2 separate regions of the Homo sapiens genome follow, and region 1 is linked to region 2. The links come from fine-mapping of genetic effects on gene expression. A gene starts in region 2. The other region holds a variant in brackets. All regions are shown on one strand. Distances are between the middles of the regions. Region 1 overlaps GPLD1 (glycosylphosphatidylinositol specific phospholipase D1). Region 2 holds the start of ALDH5A1 (aldehyde dehydrogenase 5 family member A1).

Region 1 (16,039 bases), 25 kb before region 2:
AAATTGTTAAGAATTTTAAGGCAGTGACAGCAGTATATTAAACCTAAACTAGGCCCTTCCGCAATTCTCAGAGACCCCATTCACAAAGTTGTCTAAACCCTTCTGACATTAAGAGCCCACTACAATCCAATGCCTACTTAGCTTCCTAAGCCTCTCATAGTAACTCATATTCCTTGTCCTGTGCTCCAGGCAAATACGACTACTCAGATTTCCCAACACCTGAAACTTTCCCAACCCACTAACAGAAATGTACTCTCACTGATGAAATACTATCTACTGTCCAAGACCTAACTTGAATGTCCCCTCCTCCAGGAAGCCTTCTCTGTCTGATAGCCTCCAAGGTGAAGCTTTTCTCCCTGCTATTTTTTTTTTGTTTTGTTTTTTGAGACAGGGTGTCACTCTAGCACCCAGGCTGGAGTGCAGTGGTGCAACCTCAGCTCACTGCAACCTCTGCCTTCCAGGAACAAGTAGTCCTCCCACCTCAGCCTCCCGAATAGCTGGGACTACAAGTGCACACTACCATGCCCAGCTGATTTTTTGTTACTTTTTTGTAGAGACAGGGTCTCATTATGTTACCCAGGCTAGTCTCAAACTCCTGAGCTCAAGCAATCCACCTGCCTCAGCCACTTAAAGTGCTGGGATTACAGGCGTGAGCCACCACGCCCATTCTCCCTACTATCTAATGATGCACTTACCGCACCATGGTATGTGTTGCAGTCTACTCACATAATGGTTATTTTTGTATTTGTCACTCCTTTCAGACTGAAATTTTTTAAGGGTCAGAGTTCATTTGTCTTTCATTTTATATCCCCCAGTAGAGTGTCTTCACTTAACAGCTAACTTCATTGATTAATTTCATACACAATGGGGCTATGCACAGTGAGCCTTCAACATTGTGAACGCCTTTGGGACTAAGTCCAAAGAAGGATTGGCCTGGGTGCCCAGGGTCATCTTGACTTGACAGAGACCACTGAGGTGCAGACTCAGGGCATCTCCAGAACAAACCACATATGGATGCCAAGAGTATTTGCCGGCCTGGCACATGCTTAGACCCAGGCTGGAGTGCACTGGCATGATCATAGCTCACTGTAGCCTTGAACTCCTGGGCTCAAGCAATCCTCCTGCCTTAGCCTCCCAAGTAGCTGTGACAACAGGCACAGCCATCACACCCAGCTAATTTATTTATTTTTTATAGAGACAAGGTCTTGCTATGTTGCCCAGACAGGTCTCAAACTCCTGGACTCAAGGGATCCTCTCAACTCAGCCTCCCAGCCACCACATCCCACCACAGGTAAATTTCAATGGACAAATAAATACCCAGGGACTCAGCGAAACAAGGTATCTCAAGAAGCAGCATTCCTCTTTCTCAACTTAGAGCAGAAAATTCTTACCGGGGTCCAGGAATTTACACTAAAGAACACTCCTCTTTCAGTATAGTTTATATTCCTGTCAACACTTTCAGTTAGGGATGTAGTCAAATTTCTGTGAAAATCATTTTTCTGCATTTTTGAGCTGTTGAAGAGAAAGAGGAATAAACTGGTTACGACTGAGAAAACAACCCCCTGTAAAACTGAGTTGAAGAATATAGTCAAGTTAATCACAGGTTAAAAGACCACAAAATTTTAACGTCAGAAGGCTGAAGGAGCAACACAGAAAGTTTTAGAAAACCTTCATTTCACAAAATCTTTTAGTAAACACATTTCTAAGGCTTAAAAGCCTATCCTTATAAAACATATTTCCTATAATATCAGAGCTCTATGGTAGGAGTAAAAGGCTTCAATTCTTTCCAGATTATGAAAAAATTTAGCAACAGGTATCAGCTGGTGGGGAAACTGCTTTGCAAGCATACTGATTTTTTTTTTTTTTTTTTGAGACGGAGTCTTGCTCTGTCACCTAGGCTGCAGTGCAGTGGCACGATCTCGGCTCATTGCAACCTTCGCCTCCTGGGTTCAAGCAATTCTCCTGTCTCAGCCTCCTGAGTAGCCTGGAACTACAGGCATGCACCACCACACCCAGCTGATTTTTTTGTATTTTTAGTAGAGATGGAGTTTCACTATGTTGGCCAGGCTGGGCTCGAACTCCTGAGCTCAGGTGATCCACCTGCCTCGGTCTCCCAAAGTGCTGGAATTACAGGTGTGAGCCATCACGCCCAGCCAGCATACTGATTTATCTTCAAAGACATGCTAAAATTAATTATACAATAAAAATACATTTTCACATTCAAAGATGTCAACCAGCCAAAAAGCAGATGACTCAGGGAGCCAGAGAGGCTTCAGAAATGACTGAAGTAGGGAGTGGACAACAGCCGTAAGTGACGGGGCCCTGGGCATGACACCAACTAGTGTCAGGGTTCTGGCAACCCCAAGAAAGATTGCAAGCCTAATCAAAAGGTGCTCAATGTGATTAAACAACAACAAAGTATGTTGAAGGAATGGTTTGCTAGGAAAAAAAGAAAAAGAAAAAAAAAAGTTACCCAATTCAAATACAACAATGACGACTTCACTGAACACTTTCTGTGTAATTTTCATTCTTCCAAAGTGCTAAGATCATTCCTCTCAGTACCTTTATCATTGCAATACTCTACTTTTGAGTATATCTCACTCTTGATCATCCTTAAATATCCCGGTTAAGCCATCACTTCTTCAAGGAGAGCTCTTTTGTGCCCAGGGCCAGGACGCTCTGTTGCAAATCCCCAGAACACCCTGCATTTTTAATTCCTGACACTTAAATATCTGTTAAGCCATCACTTCTTCAAGGAGAACCCTCCTGTGCCCAGGCCAGGACGCTTGCAAATCCCCAGAGCACCTTGCATTTTTTCTTCCTAACACTTAACAATGTCCACAATTACTTGTTTAGTGCCCAGCTACCTGCCAGGCCATATACCTGAGAGCAGGAACTGTTTCTGTCTTGTTCACAATGATATCTCTAGTGCCTGAACCAGTTCCTGGCACGTACTGATTAATAAATGATATTTTATTATTTGTGTTATTTTGTTCTATTTTATTAATAAATATACACATATTTGTAATATTAATAACTTATTAAATGAATGCATAAATGACTGTCGGTTGGTACCTGACTCCAGCAGAAAATATCATTTCTTAAAATACAAACCAGGCTTCTGGCCCTTAACATTGAGGGCTTCTCCCAACACTGTCTCATCAATAAATAAATTTTCATGTAAAATCTGGGTGAAGTTTATGAGTAAGACAATAATATTGATAGTTACAATAATACTAACTACATTTCTTCTTTCTTTTTTTGAGACAGGATCTCACTCTGTTGCCTAGACTGGAGTGTACTGGCCTGATCTCAGCTCACTGCAGCCTCGAACTCCTAGGCTCAAGCAATCCTCCCGCCTCAGCCTCCCAAGTAGCTGGGACTACAGGCACACACCACCATACCTGGCTAATTTTGTTCATTTTTTGTAGATATAGGGGTCTCACTATGTTGCTGAGGCTGGTCCTGAACTCCTGGACTTAAGGGATCCTCCTGCCTCAGCCTCCCAGAGTGCTAGGATTACACGTATGAGCCACTGTGCCCAGCCACTAACTACCGTTTAATGAGCAACTCAACATGTGCTAATTGCTTTACATCCACCACTGCATGTCATCCACACCATAATTCTGGGAGTGTTGATGTGCTTTTTCCATTTTGCAAAAGGAGGAAGCTATAGCTCCAAAAATCAAGCAGCTTGTTTAAAAATCACACAGCTGCAAGTGACAAATCTGGAATTTGAACCTACAGCTGTCTCTCAACAGATCCCGTGTTCTCAACCTCTATAGGGCATCTCCTCCAGGTGAGATGTACTTTTTCTATGAACAATTTTGGAATCCACTTACCCCTGGGTGTGGTTTTGCTGGCCGCCACATGCAATGAACAGAGGGTTCTCAGGCAGGTTGCAGTCACTGAGGAAACAGTCAAATGAGTTAGCCATTTATCTACTTCTTCACAAGCATGAATTTTACCGAGAATCGGTAGTGCGCTTCAATCATCTCCCAAAGGCTTAAAGTGTTTATTACCTAGCCATACAGGACTAATTAAGAGCCCATGTTCTCCCAGAGAGGGTGGGTAGGCTGACGGTTGTCACTATCATGGTAATCCAGGAAGGCTCATGCTGCCAGTCACCCCAGACTCAGCCTTCCTCTTCCCTCCCCGCTCCACCTGCTGAGCTGTTCCACGCTAACACGAAACGTCTCAGAATTTGAGAGTGTTATCAACACTGGTTACCAATTATGTCACCTTCTGCCCAATTATACACATTTATGCCTAAATGTGTCTGAATTTCTCAATTTCATTTCTTTAAAAAAAATTCCATAATTTCAATAATTAAATAGCTAATGAAGGATCCCCTTTTACAAGTGAAAAAGCCTCTGAGAACATAAGAGATAAACTCTTCCCAATAGAGGCTTTCCCCCAACACTGAACAGAAGCACTGAGGAAGCAGGTATTAATATAAGAAGAGTATTCTGGAATGAAGACTATCTTAAGATTTGTATGGAGGTCACTGAGGGAGGCTGGGGTAATACAAAAGTAATGTGGAGTGTAGGGGTGAAGAAAATTAGTTGCTGAAAAAGGAATTCCAAAAAGGAGGTGGGAAAAAGCTGAAGGCAGACTCTTCCTACCAAAACATTTCTCTGGCCAGGTTTGAGCTGAGGAAAAGGTTCTCTCTTTGGACCTTTTCTTGTCCACCACAGGACACAAAAGGCAGCCTTACAGCATTAGCACTATACTTTCAAATAGAGTTTGAGGTGAGTAGAGTTCTTGGCAATGTAACTACCACTACTTCATTGCTTTTTTAAGGAAAATATACCAAATAACATAAGTGAGCTTTGGAAGATAACCTGTGTTAGTAAGCTGGGAAATGCCTGTTACTATGAACATATTTATGTTTTCCTTTCTGTTATGAATTTTTTTGTGTTGTCTCTTTTTGGAGACTTCTCTGAATTTCCCATACATTTTCATAAATTCTGATGAATCTTTCTTTGTATATGTATGCAAACAAGCAATCAACTCATGGAATTTTACACCTTGGTAAATTGGGACAGGGATCAAGAGACAAGAAATATGTTCTTTCTCAATTATCTTTTCCTAACGAAAGAATAAGGTCCAGCTATCTTTCCTTAGCTATTTGGAGAACCAAACCAAAATTGAACACCAAAAAATGTTTTCCAGTTTGGATTATATAAAACAAGTAAGTGCAGGTCAATCACTCAAACATGCCCTTATGTTATGAGTCCTTCCAATACAAACTTTGCTTCCTTCTAATAATAATAGTAACCAATACTTAGTAAGTGCTTACTCTATTCTAAACCCTTTACATGACTGATCTAATTTACTCCTCACAAAAATCCTATGGTAAAAATAGTATTGCTGTCCCAATTTTATAGGTGAGGAAATAAGATTTTGGAAGGTTTAGCAACTTGTTCCAGATAACTCAGTAGTGAGTGGCAGATCCCTTAAATTCTGTACAACCACGGCAGTATGCACCTAAAAACCCAGGTCCACGGGAGAGCTTGGGGATTTTAGTTGAGGTTTATTTCACTATTAAAAGTGGCATTCATATGAGATTGCTATCCCTGCCAAATTGTTACTCACCGATTGTTAAAAACAAGTTTATTATGTACCAAGCTAAGGTCGAATTTGTCATCAAAGGGAATTTTGTTTCAAATCAACACAATATATAATTATGGTTAACACTGTTTGGGTACTAGCAAATGTTTATAAGGGTAAAGGAATATCACCCAGTATAATATTCTGGATCTACATTCTGTAGGCCATTCCAACTTATGAACAGCTAACTCTGCTATGATCCTGACCTGGAACAGTCTCCCAGGCACAGGTCCCGCCCAGAGAACCCTCTTTCCCACTGCTGGTGGTACAGCCTAAGCTTCCCGCTCTGCCCTTTCCCCGATTCGGGGGCTGCCCTGTGCTTCCTAGCCACACCCACATCTCAACCCGGTTCAGGTCAGTAGTGGGGAGAGGCTGCATGTCCAACAGCATGATCAGAAATGGGTTCTCTGGGCCAGGCATGGTGGCTCACGCCTGTAATCTCAGCACTTTGGGAGACAGAGGTGGGTGGATCACTTGAGGTCAGGAGATCGAGACCAGCCTGGCCAACCAACATGGCAAAACTCTGTCTCTACAAAAAATACAAAAATTAGCCAGGTGTAGTGGTGAGTACCTGTAGTCATAACTACTCGGGAAGCTGAGGCAGGAGAATTGCTTGAACCCAGGAGGTGGAGGTTGCAGTGAGCCGAGATCGCACCACTGCACTCTAGCCTGGGCAACAGAGCAAGACTCTGTCTCAAAAAAAAAAAAAAAAAGAAAAGAAAAGAAAAGAAAAGAAAAAAAAAGAAATGGGTTTTCCGGCCACGCATGGTGGCTCATGCCTGTAATCCCAGCACTTTGGGAGTCTGAGGCGGGTGGATCACTTGGATCTCAGGAGGTGGAGACCAGCCTGGGCAACATGGTAAAACCCCATCTCTACCAAAAATACAAACAATTAGCCTGGTGCAGTGGTGTGAGCCTGTGGTCCCAGGTACTCGAGACTGAGGCACAAGAATCACTTGAGCCCAGGAGGTGGAGGTTGTAGCGAGCTGAGATAATGCCACTGCCCTCCAGCCTGGGTGACAGAACAAGACCCCATCTCAAAAACAAAAAACAAAAACACATGTGCTCTTAAAAAAAAAAGAAAAAGAAAGAAATGGGTTATCAGAAGGGCCTTGGCTCCCTCTGATCTAGGGGTAGTGTAAGACTCTGTGAGAGTCTAATGATCTACTACAGCTAGAAGTGGGGACAATCACAGTCTACCTTATCTATATTTCGGCTGAGTTTCTGATTAATTCTTGTCCTGAGCATGCTTAGGAGAAGAAAAGGAACTGGAGGTTCAGCAGCTGTCCCATCTGGGCTAGATGTCAAATTTCAACAGAATGTTTTACAAATGCATTTATTTCTCATTTTACGTTGGAGTGTGTGTCGGGGCATGTAGCTATAGCTCTATTTGCTTCTGTTTTTTTAGTATTAGGTGAGGTATCCTTTGACACCCTGAAACCCTGAGAGTGTAGTCAGGGTGGAGAGGTGTGTCACCACAGCAAGAACACAGCCACTCTGGGACCTGTGGAGACCTGGCACTCCAGCCCCCAGCATGGGTTTTCCCAAAAGAAACAGATGGAGGCTGGGTGCAGTGGCTCATGCCTGTAATCCCAGCACTTTGGGAGACCAAGGCAGGTGGATCACTTGAGGCCAGGAGTTTCAGGCCAGCCTGGCCAATATGGC[G/A]AAACCTCATCTCTACTAAAAATACAAAAAAATTAGCCAGGGATGGTGGTGCACACCTGTAGTCCCAGCTGATTGGGAGGCTGAGGCACGAGACTCCCTTGAACCCAGGAGGCAGAGGTTGCAGTGAAGCCGAGATCGTGCCACTGTACTCCAGCCTGAGCAACAGAGCAAGACTCTGTCTCAAAATAAAAAGAAAGAAACAAATGGAGCACCACCTGTGGAGGCTGATTCCTGCCTGGCTGAGCCATTTCTCACAGACCCCAAATATTGCAATAACTGTCTCTCTATTTCTAAAACACGAGCAGCATCAACCAAGCCAACTGGATGGGAACCAGTCAAGTTTATAAGATCACTGAGTTTCCATTCTTTCCCTCTTTGAATAGGTTAGAAAAGCACTTCATGAGATTGTTTTGTTTTGTTTTTATGTGATCAGTTGAAAAACCTGAGAGTTATGTTGGGGGATGGGGTAAAAAGGCAGAGAGTGATTGGTAATAGAAATGCAATATGAATTCACCTGGTCCCATTCTCCAACATGAAGCTTGTTAGATGGTAAATATTAGTGGACCAAAATGCCATATCATCCAGTCCTCCAAGAAAATACTCTTGGAATTGTTCCACCAAAAACGGGGACTTTGTAGAGTAAGTGGGATATAACTATGGCAGAGAGAAAGAAAAAATAAAATGAATATGGTACTATTCCTGGTATCTTTATAATCCTTTAAGATTTGGAAGAATGACGCCTTTACCTTGGAAACAGCTAGCATCTCACCATACCTGCAAAATAAACAATAATTTTGGCTGTGAGTTGCAGTTTGTAACAGAGAAATGAAGCAAATAATGAAGAAAAAGTTCCATCCACCCTTTTCCACCGTCATGCAACTGCCTTTGAATAAGCAGAATCCATAAATCCAAAATCCAGTCTCAGGAAACAAAAACATAAAAACTGTGCAAAGGAAGTCACAACAAAATCAGCTGCAAATTGTCCTCTGAGTTACGCTTACATTTCTAAGAACTGGATATGTGAACAATCAACGATTACATTTTCGGTGATGACTTTTCGACCATACAGTTTCTCATAAATTCCCAGTAGATCTTTGACTGGCACATACCTGAAAAATGCAGAATAAAGTAAGAGTTGTTTTGATTCTGAAGCTGAAAATAGTAACAACAGCAGCAGCAGCTACCAGTTATTCCGTGATTATTTTGTGCCAGGCACCATGTAAAAGTCTTTACATGCACCAGTTATTTAATCCTAGCAATGACCTCAGGTGGTTAGTACTATCATATTCCCGTTTTACATAAGAAGAAATGATTAAGGCACAGAAAAGTTAAATAATTGGCCCAATGATGCAGAGCAAACAACTGGTAACTTAAATCAAATATTTATGTAGGTATACTCAGATTGGAAACTAACTATAACGTACAAAAAGAGTGGTTAATTTTGTGAATTCAGAGTTCAAGAAGTAATTTAAAGTATTTTCATGGTTTCAAGTTGAATTGAAAAGAATTATTTTAAAAACACTATTATAAAAATGTCTCCTCACCCTGACATCTTAATTTCAGAGTATATAAAGTATACAAAAAAGTATACCAAAGTATAAAAATATTGTAAAGGAAAATAAATCTCAGAACCCCAAAATCACTAAACTAAAGGGAAAAGTCAAGCTGGGAACCGTGTAGGGCAAACCTGCCTCCCAATCTATTTCTGTGTGGTTTCTGTGTGGTTGTTTTTGTTTTCTGTTTTTTGTTTTTTTTTTGGAGATGGAGCTTCGCTCTTGTTGCCCAGGCTGGAGTGCAATGGTGCAATCTCCGTTCACCGCAACCTCCGCCTCCCGGGTTCAAGCAATTCTCCTGCCTCAGCCTCCCAAGCAGCTGGGATTACAGGCGTGTGCCACCACGCCCGGCTAATTTTATATTTTTGGTAGACATGGGGTTTCTCCATGTTGGTCAGGCTGGTCTCGAACTCCCAACCTCAGGTGATCCACCTGCCTCGGCCTCCCAAAGTGCTGGGATTACAGGCGTGAGCCACCACACCTGGCCCTCCCAATCTATTTCTAAGTGAGATTGCTACAAAGATTAAAAGCTACATACCTCCCTCACAATTTGCCCACAAGGAAATTCATGTGGGCAAAGGACAGATAGAACTCAAATATCATCCCTCTGCTCACCTGAGACAAATGTATATCTGATTGCTTCCTTTGCCTAATTGTTTCACTAAACCAGACTACAGCATAAGTGACACTATTACTGTAAACTGCATTTTCAGTGAAAGGCTAATTGGAAATTCGGAAGGATGTCTCATAGCTACCTATGACCTGGAAGCCTCCTCCTCGCTTCGAGTTGTCCCATCTTTCTGGACTGAACCAATGGACATTTTACTTATTTTTTTATTTTTATTTTTTTTTTGAGATGGAGTCTCACTCTGTCACCCAGGCTGGAGTGCAGTGGTGCGATATCGGTTCACCGCAACCTCCGCCTTCCAAGTTCAAGCAATTCTCCTGCCTCAGCCTCCCAAGCAGCTGAGACTACAGGCATGCGCCACCATGCCTGGCCAAAACAACTGACCTGTAAGGGGACTGAACCTGCGACCCTGGTGTCATTAGCACCACAACTGAGCTAACTGGCCAACAGCCATTTCGCATTTATTGATTGATGTCCCAAGTCTCCCTAAAATGTACAGATAACCAAGATGTGCTCCAACAGCCTTGGGCACATGTTGTCATCCGGACCTCCTGAGGCTGTATCATGGGTGTGTCCTTAATCTTGGCAAAACAAACTTCCTAAATTGATTGAGACTTGTCTCAGATACTTCTTGGTTTACAGTATAAAGCAATGAAAAGAATTCTAAATCAGGCTTTTGGTTCACAAATATTAGTTATTTCCATTGCAAAGAGCAGCATTTAAAAACCAGATTTATACTCAATCATCTTTTAATTTAAAAATCCTCAAAAGTCAGGAAACAACAGGTGCTGGAGAGGATGTGGAGAAATAGGAACACTCTTACACTGTTGGTGGGACTGTAAACTAGTTCAACCATTGTGGAAGTCAGTGTGGCGATTCCTCAGGGATCTAGAACTAGAAATACCATTTGACCCAGCCATCCCATTACTGGGTATATACCCAAATGACTATAAATCATGCTGCTATAAAGACACATGCACACGTATGTTTATTGCGGCATTATTCACAATAGCAAAGACTTGGAACCAACCCCAATGTCCAACAATGATAGACTGGATTAAGAAAATGTGGCACATATACACCATGGAATACTATGCAGCCATAAAAAATGATGAGTTCATGTCCTTTGTAGGGACATGGATGAAATTGGAAACCATCATTCTCAGTAAACTATCGCAAGAACAAAAAACCAAACACCGCATATTCTCACTCATAGGTGGGAATTGAACAATGAGATCACATGGACACAGGAAGGGGAATATCACACTCTGGGGACTGTGGTGGGGTGGGGGGAGGGGGGAGGGATAGCATTGGGAGATATACCTAATGCTAGATGACGAGTTAGTGGGTGCAGCGCACCAGCATGGCACATGTATACATATGTAACTAACCTGCACAATGTGCACATGTACCCTAAAACTTAAAGTATAATAAAAAAAAAATCCTCAGAATAAACAAGATAAAAAATCGCAACCAATAAAATCTAACTTTAGTAGGTTTCTTTTAGTAGGTAAAAGAAAGAAACAATTGAGAGACTCATTTTTTATTTTATAAGAGCACTGGAATGGCATTCCCAATAAAAATAGCTTAAAAAGTCAGACAAAATAACAAAAAATATTTTTTTAAATGAATCACCAAGCTAGCAGGACAGCAGAAATTTTTCAAAGGCCAAAAACAACTAGAAACAAAAAAACCCTGGGAGGTAAGCAAATGGGACAACCAGCTTTTGCCCTGAGAACGTGTGCCACACCCTACACGTTAGGTTTGGAACCTGGACGGTTTTTTTTTTGTTTGTTTTTTTGAGATGGAGTTGGAGTCTCACCCTGTCGCCCAAGCTGGAGCGCAGTGGCATGATCTCGGCAGTTCTTAACTTGAGCCTACTTATTCTAGCACCATGGAATATCACCAAACATGACCAGTATAACTCCAGTCACATCTGATAAAGGAGACTTTAATGCAGCAACTATTATTAGAGATAAAGAGGGATTTTGCCTCACGATAAAAAGCTCAATTCACAAGGTATCCTTTTGAAATTGAATGTACCTAACAATATATCTTCAAAATCTATATAGCAAAGCAAACTCTGACAGAACTACAAGAAATTGAAAAATCTACCCTCATGTGGGAGATCTTTGAAACTAATTTCTCTCTTAATAATCAGTAGATAAACCTGATAAAAAGTAAAGAAATAAATAGTGATGTTATCTTACTTATAACTTACAAATCTTTTTATTTGAATGGTAAATTTTTTTTTCTTTTTTTATTTTTTGAGACGGAGTTTTGCTCTTGTCTCTCAGGCTGAAGTGCAATGGCATGATCTCAGCTCACTGAAACCTCCGCCTCCCAGGTTCAAGTGATTCTCCTGCCTCAGCCTCCCAAGTTGCTGGGATTACAGGCACGTGCCATCGTACCAGGCTAATTTTTGTAGTTTTAGTAGAGACAGGGTTTAACCATGTTGGCCAGGCTGATCTCGAACTCCTGACCTCAGGTGATTCACCTGCCTCACCCTCCCAAAGTGCTGGGATTACAGGCATGAGCCACCGTGCCTGGCCTCAATATTTCAAAATTGTTAATTTTCCAATTCATCTCTAGATTCAATAAACACTTAATCAAAATTCCAGCAAAGTTTTTCTTGGAACATGACAACTTGAGCCTAAATCTTATTTGAAAGAACAAAGGCAAAGAATAGGCAAGGTACTTTTGAAGAAAAAGAAGGACTAGTTATAAGATCTGCCCTAACAGAGCCCAAGACTTATTATAAAGCTACAGCAATTAAAATAATCAATATTGTTCAGGGACCAAAAGGACATATCAGAAAGCCCAGAAACTGACCCATACATATACATAACATTTTAATTTATAACCCAAAGGGGGTGCAGTGGCTCACACCTATAATCCCAACACTTGGGAGGCCAAGGTGGGCGGATCACTTGAGCCCAGGAGTTCGAGACCAGCCTGGGCAACATGGCAAGACCTCATCTCTTACAAAACATTAAAAAATTAGCCAGGTGGAGGCTGAGGTGGGAGGATCATTTGGGCCTGGAAGTTGGAGTTTGCAGTGACCCAAGATCACACACCACTGCACTCCAGCCCGAGCCACAGAGTTAGACTGGCTCAAAAAAAAAGACAGAAAGAAACAGAAAACCAAAACAGAGAAGGTATTGTAGATCAGCAAGGAAAGGGGAGACTATTGATAAATCATTCTGGGACAATCCATTATCTCCAGAGGAAAAAATAAAATTAGATTTACATCTCAGAACATACAAAAAATTAACTCCAGTTAAATCAAAGACATAAAGCTAAGATATAAAACTATAAAAGCTTTAGAAGTCCATGTAAGAGAATAACCATTTGCCCTCAAGGTAGAAAGGTTTTCTTTCTTTTTATTTAAGAGACAGGGTCTCACTGTGTTGCCCAGGCTGGAGTGCAGAGGCGCGATCATAGCTCACTGAAGCCTCAAACTCCTGTGCTCAAGTGATCCTCCCACCTCAGCCTCCTGAGTAGCTGGGACTACAGATGCTGTGCCACCACACCTAGCTAAGAACGGATTTCTTAAATAAGACATCAGAAGTACACATTACAAAGGAAAAACTGATCTATTCAACTACATGAATATTAACAAATCCTGTTTGTCAAGATACACAATAAGTGAAAGGACATACCACAAACTGTGAAAGACATTTGTAATAACTAAGTGACAAACTGACAAGAGAGTAGAAGCCAGAATATATAAATACTCACAAATAAATAAAAAGGATAAACAACCCAACAGAAAAATAGACTGAAAACTGGAAAAAGTTTTCACTTAAAATCAAACACAAATGATCCATAAAATAGAAGAAAAGTGTAACCTCATTAGCAATCTGGGAAATTCAAACTGCAACCTCAATGAGATACCATTACACACAAACAGGCTGGAAATTTTAACAGTTGGACAATACCAAGTATTGGAGAATGCAGAAGAACCAGAATGATTATACAAAGCTAATGGGAGCATAAGTTAAGATGATCATTTTGAAAAAGTAAACTATGACTCAGCAACTCCACTCCATTCAAAATTGAGTGGAATTCAATTTCTCAAAGAATCTAAACTATGCTAATATGCAATTTTACTTTTCAAAATTTACCAGTGCAGAAGACTTCTAATTATATTGTCAGTTATATTTTCTAAGAAAAAAAGTCAAGGCTCTAAATGCCACTTAGATACCACATATTTAGATGTACATTGCTCTTACCAGCGTCGTGCAAGGTAATTAAAATTAAATTCAAACTGGCTCAACACATCTCCTCCTAGGGTATGAGAAAAATATTGACATTTGGTGGATTAGTGACAAACATAGCATGCATCTATTCAACATGAGGTCTGACAAGTTGGATTATTAGTTTTTCACATTATTACATGTTTTTGTTCATTGTTTTAGGTAAAGGCATGCCTTTTTTTTTTTTTAGACGGAGTTTTGCTCTTATTGCCCAGGCTGGAGTGCAATGGCGTGATCTCGGCTCACTGAAACCTCCGCCTCCTGGGTTCAAGCAATTCTCCTGCCTCAGCCTCCCTCGTAGCTGGGATTACAGGCATGCGCCACCACGCCCAGCTAATTTTTGTATTTTTAGTAGAGGTGGGGTTTCACCATGTTGGCCAGGCTGGTCTTGAACTCCTGACCTCAGGTGATCCACCTGCCTTGGCCTCCCAAAGTGCTGGGATTACAGGTGTGAGCCACCACGCCAGGCCGCCTTTTTTTTTTTTTTTTTTTTTAAGAAAAAATTATCTTTTAAAAATCTTAGTTAGTGAAACATATAAATTAAGAAAGAACTGGCCATATAACCAAAGGTGTTTTTTGTTTTACTTTAAGGAAATATCGACCATAAGGGTTTAATAAACACCATTCACCACCTAGTTTAAATATTTAAAAGCAATTTACTACTACAGGCAAAAGGTGGAGTTTACTAGTTTAAAGCTAAAGTATTAGGAAAGTAGGAGACACTAGCTAATGAATTTTAACCCAATGTATAAGTAAAGTTTTTCTAAAATTATGACATGTCAACAACAAAGTGTAGAATTTTTTAACAAAAAAATACATATAGACACAAGTTTTTAGAAATACATCTCTATGTTAAATGAGGTACATCTCTACTCTAAATGAACTGCAACATTAAATAGAAAATACATGCAACCAGCAAAATATTAAAGACACACATATTTAAAGCACAGTAGTGATGTCATTATAAGTGAACTATACCACGAGAAAATTTAGCAAATGTAAATAAACAGTACCAAAATCACCAGCCGAATGAGCCTCTGAATAGGAGCCGTGAAAATCAATCTAAGAAAGAAAGAGAACCATCTGGTGTGTATTACAAATTGTAGCCCCAACTCTTACTTCCACAGTCAAGCAAGTGGTGGGAGATGACAGCTAACTCAATGAACTGCTGAGGACGCATAATAGACTCAATTTTCACACTAACATTTTATTAGTAAAAAAATAATAATAATAAAAAGGCAGGGCGCGGTAGCTCACGCCTGTAATCCCAGCACTTTGGGAGGTTGAGGCGGGTGGATCACCTGAGGTCAGGAGTTCAAGACCAGCCTGGCCAACATAGTGAAACCCCATCTCTACTAAAAATACAAAAAATTGGCCGGGCATGGTGGCGGGTTCTGGTAATCCCAGCTACTTGGGAGGCTGAGGCAGGAGAATCACTTGCACCTGGGAGGCAGAGGTTGCAGTGAGCCGAGATTGCACCACTGAACTCCAACCTGAGCAACAAGAGTGAAACTCCATCTCAAAAACAAACAAACAAAAAAACAACAACAAAAAAAACCACACCCACATACACACACACACACACACACACACACACACACATATATATGCAGCTGAGTTGGATACATATGTCTGGCAATAAAGCTACTACAGACAACTCTGCCTTATAGGATATATATAAAAATCTCTGAGTTGAAGTTGAAACTTCTAACAGAATGTAATTAACATAAATTAAGGACCAGGGGGCCTTCCAGAGGCTAAGTCATCAGGTAAGATCACAATTTTCAGTTTGAGGACATGGCATTTTCATATAGAAAGTTAAAAAGAGAGAGAAAAAGTCCAATAAAGTAGAAGTATTACTTTTAAATAGAACCAAGTGGCAGGTATTCATATCCTTCTTAAGATATACAGCTTGAATAAAGCATAAGATTTATCAATTATTTTTGTGACTAAAACAAAACATCACATCTATGACTGTTTTCAGTACACATTAGCCACTCTGCTCTTGTGGATGAATCTACCCAGTTGGCAAGAAGAATAAAAGGAATGAATTGGACCGGGCGCGGTGGCTTATGCCTGTTATCCCAGCACTTTGGGAGACCAAGGCAGGCAGATCATGAGGTCAGGAGATCAAGACCACCCTGGCCAACATGGTGAGACCCCGTCTCTACTAAAAATATAAAAATTAGCTAAGCATGGTGGCACGTGCCTGTAATCCCAGCTACTCAGGAGGCTGAGGCAGGAGAATCACTTGAACCAGGGAGTTGGAGGTTGCAGTGAGCCAAGATCGCGCCTTCGCACCACTGCATTCCAGCCTGGCA
Region 2 (16,039 bases):
CTAGGCTGGAGTGCAGTGGTGTGATCTCAGCTCACTTCAGCCTCTACCTCCCGGGTTCAAACGATTCCCCGCCTCAGCCTCCCAAGTAGCTAGGACTAGACTATAGGTGTCTGCCACCACGGCCAGCTAATTTTTGTATTTTTAGTGGCGACAAGGTTTCATCATGTTGGCCAGGCTGTTCTCAAACTCCTGACCTCACGTGATCCACCCACCTTGGCCTCCCAAAGTGCTGGGATCACAGGCATGAGCCATCACGCCTGGCCTATTTCTGAGGATGACATTAGTATTTGGATTAGAATGCATCCTGAAAGGGAGCGTCTGTGTCCATTTAACATGTTTTAAATTAATAATACCTCTACTAGAATACCTTGTAGAATACCTCTACTAGAAATCACTCTGCACACACTCTGGATTGATTGTTCATGTGATGAATTAGGCAGATTCTCGTTTCCACTCCTCTTTCCTGCCTACTTGCCGTCAAGGTCAATGAAGATGACTATCAGATATAAATGCTGTTTTTCCTCATTCGGCCTGTTAGGTTGGCAAGTGAGGAAGCTGAATCTTACGACTAAAAGTATTTTGAGGGTACAATAAATTTCAGTTATCTTACCATCCCGCTTCCCAAATGGATTATGAAGACTTAATGTTATTAAATGATCCAATTCTGATGTCAGAAGGGAATGCTAACCACTTATCAAATATAAGTATGAAAGAATTACACCTTCGTCACAAAGTATTATTTAGCCATAGAACAAATAGTGCATATGATCAGAATGTGTTCATTTGAAGATGGGTAAAGGTGAGTCATGAGCTAGTCCTACCAGGATATGGAATATAGCAGGAGTTGGATGAAGAATCTCTGGAGAATCTCAGTGCGTATTTCTTAATAAATACTTCCTTCTCCTCCTGGTGATGCAATTTGTGCTCAACACACAGTAACAAGAAGTGGAAAATAAATGATCTCTCTCAAGTATGACTTTTTAAAATAAAAACAAAAAAGATGGGCCAGGCATAGTGGCTCATGCCTATAATCCCAGTGCTTTGGGAGGCCAAGGTGGAAGGATTGCTTGAGCCCAGGAGTTCAAGACCAGCTTGGGCAACATAGCGAGACCCCCATCTCTACAATAAAAACAAAAAGATGTGTTCTTCTCAGCAGCACATATACTAATATTGGAATGATACAGAGAAGATTAGCACATTTTTAAAAATGTACTGTTTAAAAAATTTCTCAAGTATTTTTTCAAATTATGAGTCATATCATTAAAATCTTTAAATTTTAAGTGTGATATATATAAGATACCTATAAAATGTTCAAGTAGCACTTGGAAGAGACATATACCTTTTAACCATAATATTAATGTCTTATAACATTAATAACATAATATACAACATTATAACATAAAGAAATAAATAATGAGTCTCTTTTTTTTTTTTGAGACGGAGTTTCACTCTTGTTGCCCAGGCTGAAGTGCAGTGGTGCAATCTCAGCTCACCACAACCTCCACCTCCTGGGTTCAAGCCATTCTCCTGCCTCAGCCTCCCGAATAACTGGGATTACGGGCATGCACCACCACGCCCGGCTAATTTTGGATTTTTAGTGGAGATGGGGTTTCTCCATATTAGTCAGGCTGGTCTCGAACTCCTGACCTCAAGTGATCCACCTGCCTCAGCCTCCCAAAGTGCTGGGATTACAGGCATGAGCCACCACGCCCAGCCAAAATGAGTCTTAAAATTACTGTTTAAATATCTGTTAGGATCTTTGTTTGGCACCTATAAAAGAAAACTAATGCACAAAGAAGAAAAGAAAAATCAAGATTTCTACCTCTCTGTAGTTAACACGCCCATTGTGAAGCTGAAGAAACTCCAGAGCTCTGTGTCCTGAGAGAAATAAATACATAAATCAATTAAGTTCAACTATTACTGAAAACATAACTTAGGCGAGATGATTTTAAAAGAAAAATACACAATTTGTGGTTATAACTGTCAAGGACGCAGGAAATGAAATGAGTTTGCACTCACTGGCAATTTTCATTAGGTATAGGCTTGTGCAGTATTTCTATTGTTATAGTACAAAGCAAGTTTAGATGGTGATTTAAAGTTTCTGCTTAACTATTAAATAACTCTATGAGCTTTAGTGCTATTCAACCTCTCTAGACCTCAGTTCCCTCCTATGGAAAAGAGTTTAAAAAATACCCACCGTATAGGTTGGTTGAAATAATAAATGCTAAGTGACAAGCACAGTGGCTGACACTTGGTAGGAGCTCAAGAAAAAGAAACTGCCAGACCACACATGGTGGCTCACACCTGTAATCCAAGAACTTTGGGAGGCCGAGGAGGGCGGATCACCTGAGGTCAGGAATTCAAGACCAGCCTGATCAACATGGAGAAACCCCGTCTCTACTAAAAATACAAAAAATTAGCCAGGCATGGTGGCGCATGCCTGTAATCCCAGCTACTTGGGAGGCTGAGGCAGGGGAATCACTTGAACCCAGGAGGCAGAGGTTGTAGTGAGCCGAGACCACGCCACTGCACTCCAGCCTGGGCAACAGAGCGAGGCTCTGTCTCAAAAAAAAAAAGAAACTGTCATCATATTTTGCTTCAGTACTGAGGCAGACAAACCTAAGTACAAAATACAATATAACACCTAACCTATGGACTGAACCAATGATCCTCAAAAGTTTTTCATCATTGGACCAGAAGGACAAAATCATCTCAGAAAGCTACCAACTACACCCCACACCCACCCACAGCCTGAATCTCCCAAGAATCAATAAGAGGACTAACATTCCCTGGGAAGTGACATTCAAAGGTGATACCTTATTTCTGTTGTGAATCACCTCCAATTTTTAAAATTCATATAACAAAAAACTATTGCCACTACTATAAGCATTAATATCATAAAAGTCACAACCCACAAATACAAATAACCTGTGTACAGGATTCCAGTGATTTACGCTGAATGAAGCCATTTCTAATTAACTCACTCAGATAATGCTGACCTTCCACTCAGGCCCCTTTATAAGAAATGAAAAAGTGAACCAAAATATTTATAAAATCATCTAATTTATTAGTAAATAAATGATGGAGTTTTGGTCTTCTTCTATGTAAAAAAATTCTCAGAATCCGTGCAGATTCTATTTCAGGAGATGCCTTCAATTATGTTCACATAAATATTATTCTTTAAATGTCCATTAGGACCTTTGTTTGGTACTTAATGAAGAAGGGCAAGCAATTATCTGGTTTTATTAAAATTTCAGATGCAATCTGTCTTGTAAATTTTTAAACACTAAGGATTAAAAATGGAGTATTTCCATTTATATTTGTTCCTCATCAGCTTACTCTGTAGTTTTGGCAATTTCAACTTCACAGAACATAGAACTGCAAGACACTTTAGAATTCTTTAAGAAGTTCAACCCCCTCATTTTATAGAATTGAGAGGTAGGTAAAAAGTGAATTGCTCAGAATCACACATCTACTTTACTGGATGGCTGGAACTAGAACCTAAGTCTGATCCTCTTTTCCATTGTTTCCTGACTCCCTTCTAGCAGTACATTTTTAATGGAAAGAACGCCGGACCAGCTGTCAGGACATGTAATTCTAGGCCAGGCCACTGAAAACTTAGCTGTAAAACTGTCTAGTATCAGTTTCTTCATCTGTAAAAGAAGAGAACTGGACTCGGTGACTTCTAGTGTCCTTTCAGATAGTCAAATTCTGTGATAACAGGTTCTTGCCCATCGTAGCTCAGTATATATGTCTATTTTGCACTGATAAATTTTCATTTTTTGCCTATAATCTTATTATTCTTTGAAACTTCTGGAGGTGGTACAACTATAAAATTCTGTTATAATTTTTATCTAAATTAAAGAAAACTCAGGCCAGGCGCGATGGCTCACGCCTGTAATCCCAGCACTTTGGGAGGCCGAGGCAGGCGGATCGCAAGGTCAGGAGATCGAGATCATCCTGGCTAACATGGTGAAACCCCATCTCTACTAAAAAAAAATACAAAAAAATTAGCCAGGCGTGGTGGCGGGCACCTGTAGTCCCAGCTACTCGGGAGGTTGAGGCAGGAGAATGGTGTGAACCCAGGAGGCGGAGCTTGCAGTGAGCCGAGATTGCGCCACTGCACTCCAGCATGGCGGACAGAGCGAGACTCCGTCTCAAAAAAAAAAAAAAGAAAACTCAGAACATCAGGTATATCTGAAATTAATCTGAAAATTGCTGTAGAATGTTATCACAGCTAATTCTATTACAAATTGACTCACGTTTTCCATGCGTTAAAACATGTTACAAATACACTTCATACAAGAACCAAATCCTTTTGCTAAGAAAGATCTTAAGTGTTCTCAGCCCATATGCAAAAAACATGGTAGCTATGTGGGGGGGGCGGATGTGTTAATTAGCTTGATTGTGCTAATCATTTCACAAGGCATACATATATCAACACATCATGTTGTATATCTTAAATTTATACAATTTTTGTCAATTATACATCAATAAAGCTAGAAAAATAAAAATTTTAAATAACTCTTTGTGGTGCCATCTCCCTATATCCAGGATGACTCTGCCCTTGCCCCTAAGGTCGGTGGCACTGGCTTGCTGTACCCTTCTGCTCTCCAACTCCTGCCATCTTCCTGGCACCGTGCATGTGGATAACTAAACTCCCTTACTTTCTTGACCTTCCTGAAGCCAAGCACTTTTACAGCAATTTGACTCAGGGACCCACTCCCATGGCCACATATGGCTCTTTACATATACTTGGAAATGCCTGTCCTTGGACATGTAAAAACAACAAAAGTACATTTCTCACTCCTGCCATATTCCACCCATCTTGTTCCTCTCCCATTCTGTCAGTTCTGCTGCCACGTTGCAACCTCTCGTTCACTGAGCCTCTCACTATTTCCCCACCCAGAGAAACACACAGGGGTCCCATGACCAATGGGGCATCAGCTCTCTTTCTTATTTGCCCCTTAACTGAAGTCATGCTGCCAATCCCTATCCCTGGATGACTGCAATCACCGGCTTCTCCTCCCTGCTGTCAGGCCACTCAGCTCAGTGCCCAGGGGAAACTGTATCAATCCACGAGCGGGATTTTCAGTCTCTTCCTTAATGTCTTTGACAGATGTATTGTCCTCTCAACAACATAACAAGACACCAGTACTTACCTATTTCTACGTGTGTTGAAAGGCCACACGGTGAACCTCTATGGCAGAGAGAACCCAACATGATCAGCAGGCCAGGCCACAACCTGAAAGCAGACATGATCTCATTGCCCACCGGCTTCTCTGGTGACGTGGGAATGCTCAGAGCTGCAGCAGCACTGGGACTCCAAAATCCAGGTGCAGACCCACCGCTTCTCTCTAAGCAGGTCACTGACCGAGGAAACCAAGCCTCATTTCAAAATAATATCGTTTTCCAATGAAGTCAACTGTCCAACTACTGTTTAGCTTCACCAGAACAGCAAACAAACTCTGTGCTCCTGGGGGGTGGGGTTGGGAGGATAAACTGAAATCTGAAAAGCCTTAGGCCAGAAGCACTGCATCTTCTGACCGAGGTTTTTTCTGGATTTCATTTTAACATGAAATTTGTGTAGAGATGCAAGCAAAGTTGTCTCCAGATATTTTTTGCTTTCTATAAAAAGGCTCACCTGTGCAGATAGTCAACATATTAGACCACCTCACCTTACAAGGGTGGATCTCTCATGCATCCTTTCTACACATTTATCAGGCTGTCCTGCTTCCTCCGCCTCCCAAGCCACAAGTGCTGGGAAAGTTTTATGGTAATCAGCTGGAACTGGCTTCCTTTTCAGTATTTGGCAACAGATACTGACACTTGTATGGGATTACACAAGAGCAGCCACTCCTGGTCTCTCTACCTCTGGCTGTTCTAATAGGGCTTATCCAGAGCCTGTTGCAAGGTCAGATTCCTGCAGCTGAAGCAAAGATGTCAATTCCACTTGGGAGGTGGAAGGAAGGGGGCAGATTTAGGGCCAAGAAACAGGGTTTGGAAAATGTTAAGCTCACGATATATTATCAGGTACCCACTTACACTTCATCCATGGGAAAAATTAAGCTCTTCATGAAACTGATGGTAATCTTAAAACACAAATTATGCATATTTTACATTAAAAGCAAGAGATGGGCTCCTAAAAGAGTGGGAGGAAATAGTATTCACTTCAGGTTTGCCAAATGAAAGGATGAATAGAAAGTGGGATGATTTGGCTGGGCGTGGCGGCCCACACCTGTAATCCCAGCACTCTGGGAGGCTGAGGCTGGTGGATCACCTGAGGTCAGGAGTTTGAGACCAGCGTGATCAACATAGTGAAGACCCCGTCTCTACTAAAAATACAAAAATTAGCCAGGTGTGGTGGCACGTGACTGTAGTCCCAGCTACTGGGGAGGCTGAGGTGGGAGGATCTCTTGAACCCAGGAGGTGGAGATTGCGGTGAGCCGAGATTGCACCACTGCACTCTAGCCTGGGTGACAGAGCAAGACCCTGTCTCAAAAAAAAAAAAAGAAAAGAAAAAAAGAAAGTGGAATGATTTGACAACAGTTGTCGCCCCAACAGTTTCCCCTGTAAGCTTAACACAGCCATGTGCACAGCCCCAAGGAAAGAAATCCCGCAGCTACCCCCAGACCTGAGGGGCAGTAGGCCCAGCTACTCCTGATTAGTCCAGAGGCCATATGCCTACGTGTTTTGTTTGGCTAACAGGATGTTTTATAAACTTAAATCAAGTTTATGAACTTTTTCTAAATGAGAAAATTCACGTAGAAATCTAGATTTCTGGCTCTCTTAAAAACAAAAGAACTGGCATCATGAACTGACGCTCCCATGTGACACGACAACCAGCTGCAGCCAAAGAGCCAGCTGCCCCCTGATAGAGCATGTCCTGCTCCTCCAGTCCCCACCATCCATGCAATGTGTGCAGGTTTCCACACCCCTTCTGGCCACCAGAGGCCTTTGAGTTTGCCTCCCTGTCACTCTGGGCCTTCTACAGACTGTGCGTGAGGGAGTCACAATTATTAATTGGGACTTTGGATATTGTCTCTCAGAACATCCAAGAGCAGTCAATCAATGGTTACAGGGGAAAAAAATACTGCTAGAAAAGATATCTAACCATATATAATACAACAAACCCATCCAAAAAGCACCAAAGAAATGGGTTCAGAACAGGTGTGGTGGCTCACGCCTATAATCCCAGCACTTTAGGAGGCCAAGGCGGGCAGATGGCTTGAGGCCAGGAGTTCAAAACCAGCCTGTGCAACATGGCAAAATCCCGTCTCTACCAAGAAAAAAACAAAAACAAAAATTAGCCGGGCATGGTGGCATGCACTTATGGTCCAAGCTACTCAGGAGGCTGAGGCGGGAACATCGCCTGTACCTGGGAAGTGAAGGTTGCAGTGAGCTGAGATCACACCACTGCACTCCAGCCTGGGCAAGACCCCACCTCAAAAAAAAAAAAGGAATGGGTTCAGTTACCAAACAATACTAATCCCAAATGTCTCAATTTCTCATTATGCATTTTTTTGTATTTGAGATTCAGAATGACATAAACGTATAAATGTAATAAAATAAGAGGAAATTATTTGCTTAGTGTGATAGTTATGAATATGGTCTTTATATGACAATATTGCTTGCAGTTTTATGAAGTTTGTATTACTTTGGTAACAATAAAAACATCAAAGATATGACTTTAAAGAAAGTTAAAACGTAGCTCACAATATTACTATCTGACAAATAATAAGCATATGGAAATATTTTTCTTTCTGCCCCACACCCCCCTTTCCTAATATAGGTGGCTTTGTTATAAACAAGACAGCATGATTCTACCATTTAGAACTCTTCTGGAAATAGAGACCCAAGGTGAAAAGTAAACATACAGTTACATTAAGGAGTGAGTAGGGAGAATACAGGTTTGAAAGCCAGAGGGTCTCAAGCTTTATGTGGGCCAGTCTAGAAAATGGGGGAGAAGAGGCTGGGCACAGTGTCTCATGCCTGTAATCCCAGCACTTTGGGAGGCCGAGGTGGGCAGATCACCTGAGGTCAGGAGTTCAAGACCAGCCTGGCCAACATGGTGAAACCCCATCTCTACTAAACAATACAAAAATTAGCCAGGCATGGTGGCGCGCACCTGTACTCCCAGCTACTCTGGAGGCTGAGGCAGGAGAATCACTTGAACCCAGGAGGCAGACGTTGCAATGAGCTGAGATCGTGCCATTGCACTCCAGCCTGGGCGACAGAGTAAGACCCTGACTCAAAAAAAAAAAAAAAAAAAAAAGTGAAAGAAAAAAAAGAAAAAGAAAATGGGGGAGAGGATGAATAAGGGTGGGAACTGGGGAGTGGAGGTTCCCAGGACAAGGGCAGCCAAAGGAGAAAGGAGGGAAGAGGTCCCTCTCACCTGATGGTCTTGTCCTTGTAGGCCCTGGTAAGGACAGACACCCAGCCAGGCGCTAGGGGGCATCAGGACAGGCTGGAAGTAAGACAGGAGCCAGGAGGAAATTGTTTACACTCTGAATGGGGGCTTGAAGAGGGGCACAAAACTGAGGGAAAAGGGGAGGGCCACATTGTGAACTTTCTAAGCTCCAGGCGCTTTTGCCTTTGTGAAGTACTTCCTGTCACAAAAATAAGTAAACAATAAATAGAAATCACATTTTACATCTGCATTGGTGTAAGATTAACATATTAATATGCCACCTAAAACTTCTTTTCTTCAGATTTTAGAATAAATTAAACATTTGTGAGTGCTCCTAAAAGTTTTATGGGCCCTTGGCATCGTACCTACTGTGCGTAATGGATAAGTCATCTGGGAAAGGGAGTGGGTACCGTTTGAAATAGAACCTTAAAAAGGTAAGTGGGCTAGGGTAATTTTTGAACAAGAGAGGCAGCCACAATTAACTTGGCTTTTCTGGGCCTCAGTTGATTGAGGCCTCAATTGAATGATTTCCCCAGGCCAGTAGAAATGAGCCCTGTAATCCCAGCACTTTGGGAGGCCAAGGAGGGCGGATAACTTGAGGTCAGGCATTCAAGACCAGCCTGGCCAACACGGTGAAAACCTGTCTCTACTAAAAATACAAAAATTAGCTGGGCTTGGTGGCACACACCTGTAGCCCCATCTACTCGGGAGGCTGAGGCAGGAGAATCGCTTGAACCCGGGAGGCGGAAGTTGCAGGGAGCTGAAATCGCACCACTGCACTCCACCCTGGGTGACAGAATGAGTCTGTCGGTCTCACAAGAACAAAACAAACAAAAAACAAAAACCACCACCAAAAACAAAACAAAACAAAAACAAAAACTCCCTCCGCAGGCAGGAGATGTAAACACGCCAGCTCCCCAGCCCCACCTGTGATACCTACTGGCCCACATCCCTATTAGGACTCCCTGGTTCTCCCCAGTTCCTGCAATAAAATACAGAGCAAAATAGTGTGAAATTGATTAAACTCTACTGTTATCACTTCTGCCATATGTGACTGGCTCAAAACTCAATGGATCTGACTCAGCAAAAGACAAAGTCAAAATTTAAAGTTACTGCCTCGGCATTTTGCAAATGTCCTAGAAAAAAATTCAACGTCCTAGAAAAAGGTGAAAGCTAGCAAGATACTCTCAACGCTGTAGGAGTTGAGAAAGGGAGATATGTAACCTAAAATCAATGCATAGGGCTGGGCTTCATTTGCACCCACAAATTCCCAGCATACGCCTGCTATTTTTATTTTTATCCTCATTAGGTTTTAAGCTTCCCTGCTGCTTTCAGAGTCTTAAGCCCAAGTCTAATTTTTTAACGGATGAAGAATGCTGTTTAAAGGTGCTCAAATACCTTGGTTGGATAGTATGCTCAATCCTTATACCTTGGTTGATTCAATTTTGACAAATGCTTCCATTTACTAGTTGGTGACCCAACTTTAATCTTACTAGTGGCTTGACTAGGGTAGCTAGTATGACTTTGAACGCTATATTGAATTTAATGTGGCAACTGTAATGAGCATTTTACGTTATCTCACAACAAAATGGGGTAGATATGGTTCTATTTTATAAGTGACTGGACTAAGGTTAACCTGTCGGTCACACAGCTTGTCGGCAACAGACTTGAGTTTGGATCCTAGTCTGTTTATTTCCAAAGCGCTGTTATTTATCGGGAGCAACCCTAGGAGAATGCCTAGACACACACCCAAAAAAGCAGCCAGGCAGCAGAACGCGGGGTCACACTTCGACCCCTCAGAGAACGATCGCTCCCAATCAATACTACGTGCTCAGGAGCTACAACTGAAGAAGCGTGATCACGGCCTTGGCATTTAGGGCAGGCACCAGCGCATCTATGGACCGCGCACAAATTCCGGGGATGCCGAATTTGGGGGATGCTAAGGGGAGAGAGTGGGTCTCTAGCAGCGATTGGGGGCTCAGGAGCAGTTAGTGACAAATGAGCACCCGAAAAGTGAAAAGGTGACAGCAGTCCGCAGGTGCATCTACTGGCGAGCCTTCTCCATCCCCGAACCCAACCCTCCCCCGGGAGAAGGTCGCGCCAGGAGAGAAGCCGCGCGGCGCTTAGGGCAAGGTGCAGAGGGCGGCGCGGCGGTGCAGCGAGAAAGACGCGGAGAGAGGGCGCTGCTCTGTGGCTCTGCAACCTTCCGCCAGCTCCCACGCTTTCCCCGCGCGTCCCCGGCGCCTCCTCGCTCCTCTTGCTTCCCCGCGACCCCTGCGTTCCCGTGCGCGCGCGCCCGCTTGCCTGTTTCCTGTCGCCGTCGTTGCCCGGGCCATGGCGACCTGCATTTGGCTGCGGAGCTGTGGGGCCCGGCGCCTCGGGTCGACGTTTCCAGGCTGCCGCCTCCGCCCCCGCGCCGGCGGCCTGGTCCCTGCCTCCGGGCCTGCGCCCGGCCCGGCCCAGCTCCGCTGCTACGCTGGGCGCCTGGCGGGCCTCTCTGCGGCGCTGCTGCGCACCGACAGCTTCGTGGGCGGCCGCTGGCTCCCGGCCGCCGCCACCTTCCCCGTGCAAGACCCGGCCAGCGGCGCCGCTCTGGGCATGGTAGCCGACTGCGGGGTGCGAGAGGCCCGCGCCGCCGTGCGCGCTGCCTACGAGGCTTTCTGCCGCTGGAGGGAGGTCTCCGCCAAGGTGAGAGAGCCCGGATGCAGGGGGCCAGAGCTGGCCGGGGACACGGCGGGGAGCAGAGGGGGCTTTACCCCAAAGTGACACCAGCCGCGTCGCCTCCCTCCTGTGCTCAGTTCCCCAGGGTATACAAAGTGGAAAGTCAGAGCAACAAGGGAGACGACCGACAAATAAGTTTGGAGCTTCCACTTTGAGCCGGGCACTAGGGACACGACCCCTGCCCTCAAGCCTCATCAAGTTATGCACTGCCCAGTAGGGGAGGCAGAACGTGAGCGCCTAATACAAGCGAGCTGCTTGTTATGGTCAACAAGCCTAACCGTGGAGGGGCGGGGAGAAAGGGGAGGGGTGTCAGGGAAGTGAGAGCACGTGTGGCCCTTCAGAGTAGCTGAAATATCTCCGCAGCTGCAGGGAGCCCACGCAGGAGGCTGCTTCAGCGGCCCTTGAGAAGGCTGGTAGTGAGGGCCCCTGGCCAGAATCATGGGATCGGAAACGGAGAGAACTGTAGAAAGATTTGGGTTTTGTGCAGGGGAAGAGAGAAATCCAGGAGCGTTCTCCAGGTTTTCACCCTAAATGGATAAATGCTGCTATTGGCCATTGCATAGAGAACACTGGAGAATTGGGAGTAAGGGGTGGAGGGCCATTAAATGGGAAGAATAGAGTAAGAAGAAAACTAAGAAAGTAGTTTCTTCCTTCTAATATTATATTATTAAACCTGGAGTCAACGCAGTGAAATTTTTTACCGTGTCCTTCAAAGCTCTCCCTCTGAAGGAATGCATCCAGCGATCCCTACGAGTACAAGAGAGTCTTAGCACTCATTCATCCATCAGCTGTTTACTGAGCACCTGCTGTATGCCCTGCACTGTTGGAGGTGCTTGGGATACCTCAGTTAAACGAAAGAAGGATTCTGCCCTTATGGAGCTCACATGGGGTGGAAGGGGAGCAGAAGAGAGATCAGAACTCTAAACAACAAACATAATATCTAAGCAAATAAGTATGTGAGAGATGCTGAGTGCAATATGGAAAAAAGGTAGAAGCAGGAGAGGATCCGGGCCAGAGGGAAGGGGCAAGATGCAGCATCAACAGTGTGACCAGGCATATTCCTCTGCTAGGGCTGCCATAGCAAAGTACCACAGACTGGGTGGCCTGAACAACAGACATTTCTCATTTTACCGCTCTGGAGGGTAGAAATCCCAGATCGAGGTGTTGTCAGAGTTGGTTTCTTCTAAGGCCTCTCATTGGCTTGCAGAGAGCTCAGCTTTTGTCTTTGTATCTCATCAGACCTCAATTTTAGACTCATGGAGTCTGAGATGTCTGTTCACGCCCAAGTGAGGATGTAAAGTAAGCAGTTGGTTATATGAATGAATCTTCCCTGTGTGTCTCCACATGGTCTTTCCTCTGTGTGTATATGTGTCCTAATCTCTTCTTCTTTTAAAAACAGGAGTCAGATTGGATTGGGGCCCACCAGAATGACCTCATCATAACTTAATTCCCTTTTTAAAGACCCTATTTCCAAATGCACTCACATTCTGAGATACTGGGGGGTTAGGACTTCGACATGTCAATTTTGCCAGGAGCACCATTCAGCCCGTAACATCAGGGTAGGTCTCATTGAGGACATGAGATACAAAGACCAAAGGAGGTAAGTGTGTCCGGAGTTGGTTCCTGCCGGTAGGTTTGTGGCCTCGCTGACTTCAAAAATGGAGCCGCGGACCTTTGCAGTGAGTGTTACAGCTCTTAAAGATGGCATGGACCCAAAGAATGAGTGGTAGCAACATTTATTGTGAAGAGCAAAAGAAGAAAGCTTCCACAGCGCGGAAGGGGACCCGAGTGGGTTGTCGCTGCTGGGTGGGTGGGGCGTGGTGGCCAGCTTTTTATTCCCTTATTTATCCCTTCCAGTGTTCCGTTTCTGTCCCATCAGAATGCCTTTTTTTCAATCCTCCCTGCGATTGGCTACTTTTAGGATCCTGCTGATTGGTGCGTTTTACAGAGCGCTGATTGGTGCATTTTACAGAGCGTTGATTGGTGTATTTTACAATCCTCTTGCTAGCTACAGAGCGCTGATTGGTGTGTTTTTTACAGAGCACTGATTGGTGCATTTTACAATCTCCTTGGTAGCTCCAGATCGCTGATTGGTGCATTTTACAATCCTCTTGCTAGCTACAGGGTGCTGATTGGTGTGTTTTACAGGGCGCTGGTTGGTGCATTTTACAATCCTCTTGTAAGACAGAAAAGTTCTCCAAGTCCCCACTCGACCCAGGAAGTCCAGCTGGCTTCACCTCTCATAAGGACATTCAGCTAGAGCCAAAGTAGAAGCATGGCTGACACATTTGCAGAACAGCAAGGAGGCCCGTGTGGACTGAGCAAAGGGGAAGAGTTGTATCAGAGGAGGTCATAGGGAGAAGGGGAAGAGTGGGTGGAACATGTAGGACCTGTGAGTTATTCTAAGGACTTGGTTTTTACTTTGAGTAAAGAGGGGGCTGTGTCAGGGTTTTAAGCAGAGATATGATCTGATTTACATTTTGAAAGGCCACTCTAACCACAGTGCTGAGAATAGATGAAGAGTGGTGGAAGCAGAGAGACAGGTTAGGAGGTTGTTGCACGGATTTAGGTGGGAGGCCACGGTGGCTTGAACCAGGGTGGTAGCAGTGGACAAGGTGAAGAGTTATCCCATAAAGGATGTATTTTGAAGGTAGAGCCCACTGGATTTTCTGATGGATCATTATATAGAAAGTAGGTGAAGGAGAGGGGTTAGTGATGACTCCAGGGCTTTTGGCCTGAGCAATTGGAAGGATGAGGATAGCTGAATTGAACAGCATTAGGGTGAGATATCAAGAGTTCAGTTTTAGACTTATTGAGTTTGAGATGTCGGTTCACACCCAAGAGAGGATGTAAAGTAAGCAGTTGGGTGTATGAGTCTGAGGTTTGAGAGCGAACCCTAGGCTAGAAATATAAATGTGAAATTCATACCTGTGTGTACTGCATACATACTTACAGCTATGGAAATGGTGAGATCACAGGAAAGGAGTGGACCAGGGCCTGAGCCCTGGTTCCCCTAGCATCATTCTGGAGTCCCACAAGGCCCCACGAAGATCAAGGCTGCCATACAATGGTGTTACACTGCAGGGGTCTGGAAAGCCTTCTAGTCTGTCAGTGATTGTTTGGCAGCTGCAGGGCGGGTGTTGGGACCTCTTGCTGACACTAGCAGCATTATCCTGTGTTCAGATCACACCGCCCATCCTAATGTCTGTGCCCCTTGAACATTACAGTGATGTCAGCTTCCATCTTACAAGGGCTAGGATCTTCTCAGGGAACCTTCCTTTTTGAAAGGAGGGGTTCAGGCTGGGCACGGTGGCTAACGCCTGTAATCCCAGCACTTTGGGAGGCCAAGGCGAGTGGATCACCTGAGGTCAGGAGTTCGAGACCAGCCTGTCCAACATGGTGAAACACTGTCTCTACTAAAAATACAAAAATTGGCCAGACACGGTGGCTCACACTTGTAATCCCAGCACTTTGGGAGGCTAAGGCAGGTGGATCACTTGAGGTCAGGAGTTCAAGTCCAGCCTGGCCAACATGGCGAAACCCCATCTCTACTAAAAAATACAAAAATCAGCTGGGCGTGGTGGTGGGCGCCTGTAATCCCAGCTACTCAGGAGGCTGAGCCAAGGAGAATTGCTTGAACCTGGGAGGCGGAGGTTGCAGTGAGCCGAGATCATGCCAACTGCACTCCAGCCTGGTGGACAGAGCAAGACTCTGTCTCAAAAAAAAAAAAAAAAAAGAAAAAATACAAAAATTAGCCAGGCATTGTGGCATGCACCTGTATGTAATCCCAGCTACTCAAGAGGCTGAGGCATGAGAATTGCTTGAGCCCAGGAGGCGGAGGTTGGTTGCAGTGAGCCGAGATGGCGCCACTGTACTCCAGCCTGGGTGACAGAGCGAGACTGTCTCAAAAAACAAAAATGAAGGTTTTTCTTGGCTTTGAATACACCTGTGCAGATGTGGGAAGCTACAGCCTGAGCAGCGCTCTCTTTAGAGTGCCTTGATGGCAGCCCAGGTGGCCTAGATTCTCTAGGCCTTCCTCATTTTCTTTTTTTAAGTGGTTTTATGTGAATGAATTAATTTTTTTTTTAATAAGCCATTTCTTCCTTTTTTCTTTTCTTTTTTTTCTGAGACAGGGTCTTGCTCCATTGCCTAGGCTGGAGTACAGTGATGCTATCATTGGCTCACTGCAGCCTCAAACTCATAGGCCTAAGCGATTCCCCCACCTCAGCCTTCTGAGTAGCTGGGACCACAAGCATGCACCACCACACCCAGATAATTTCTTTTCTTTTTTTTTTTTTTTTGAGACGGAGTCTCGCTCTGTCACCCGGGCTGGAGTGCAGTGGCGCAGTCTCGGCTCAACTGCAACCTCCGCCTCCTAGGTTCTCCTGCCTCAGCCTCCCGAGTAGCTGGGACTACAGGCGCCTGCCACCATGCCCGGGTAATTTTTTTGTATTTTTAGTAGAGACGGGGTTTCACCGTGTTAGCCAGGATGGTCTGGATCTCATGACCTCATGATCCGCCCGCCTCGGCCTCCCGAAGTGCTGGGATTACAGGCACGAGCCACTGCGCCCAGCCCCACACTCAGATAATTTCTGTGTGTGTGTGTGTAGAGACAGATCTCACCGCATTGCCCAAGCTGGTGTTGAACTCCTGGCCACAAGCAACCCTCCCTCCTTGGCCTTCCAAAGTGTTGTGATTACGGGCATGAGCCGCCACACCTGGTCCCATAATATTGTTAATAATCCAATGTATCCCTTTATCTGTTTTTTGTTCATTGGAATTTTTTAAATTATGGCAAAATATGCATAACATAACATTTACCATTTTAACCATTTTTAAGTGTACATTTCAGTGGTATTAAGTGCATTCATGTTGTTGTGCCTGGGCCCTCTTCTTAAGTGTGTAAAA

The links. PIP is the estimated chance that this variant, and not a neighbour inherited with it, causes the effect. A credible set is the group of variants that fine-mapping cannot tell apart.
Region 1: its variant is the best candidate, but not a certain one, in a credible set for the expression of ALDH5A1 in whole blood (TOPMed, PIP 0.70).

The regions. Positions count from the first base shown.
Region 1 is chr6:24,458,888-24,474,926 of GRCh38, forward strand. GPLD1 (glycosylphosphatidylinositol specific phospholipase D1) reads right to left here. Exons shown (of 25, transcript NM_001503.4): 6 at 14,732-14,780; 7 at 13,695-13,749; 8 at 8,280-8,387; 9 at 8,025-8,052; 10 at 7,793-7,932; 11 at 3,843-3,908; 12 at 1,392-1,512. Among named protein-coding and RNA genes, the nearest start is that of GPLD1, 23 kb to the right of the region's middle. RefSeq lists a silencer at 3,985-4,185. The variant G/A (reference allele first, on the strand shown) is at 7,279.
Region 2 is chr6:24,484,253-24,500,291 of GRCh38, forward strand. ALDH5A1 (aldehyde dehydrogenase 5 family member A1) reads left to right here and starts at 10,717. Exons shown (of 10, transcript NM_001080.3): 1 at 10,717-11,098. The coding sequence starts at 10,745. GPLD1 (glycosylphosphatidylinositol specific phospholipase D1) reads right to left here and starts at 5,326. Exons shown (of 25, transcript NM_001503.4): 1 at 5,163-5,326; 2 at 1,823-1,878. The coding sequence starts at 5,259. RefSeq lists a silencer at 10,723-11,112.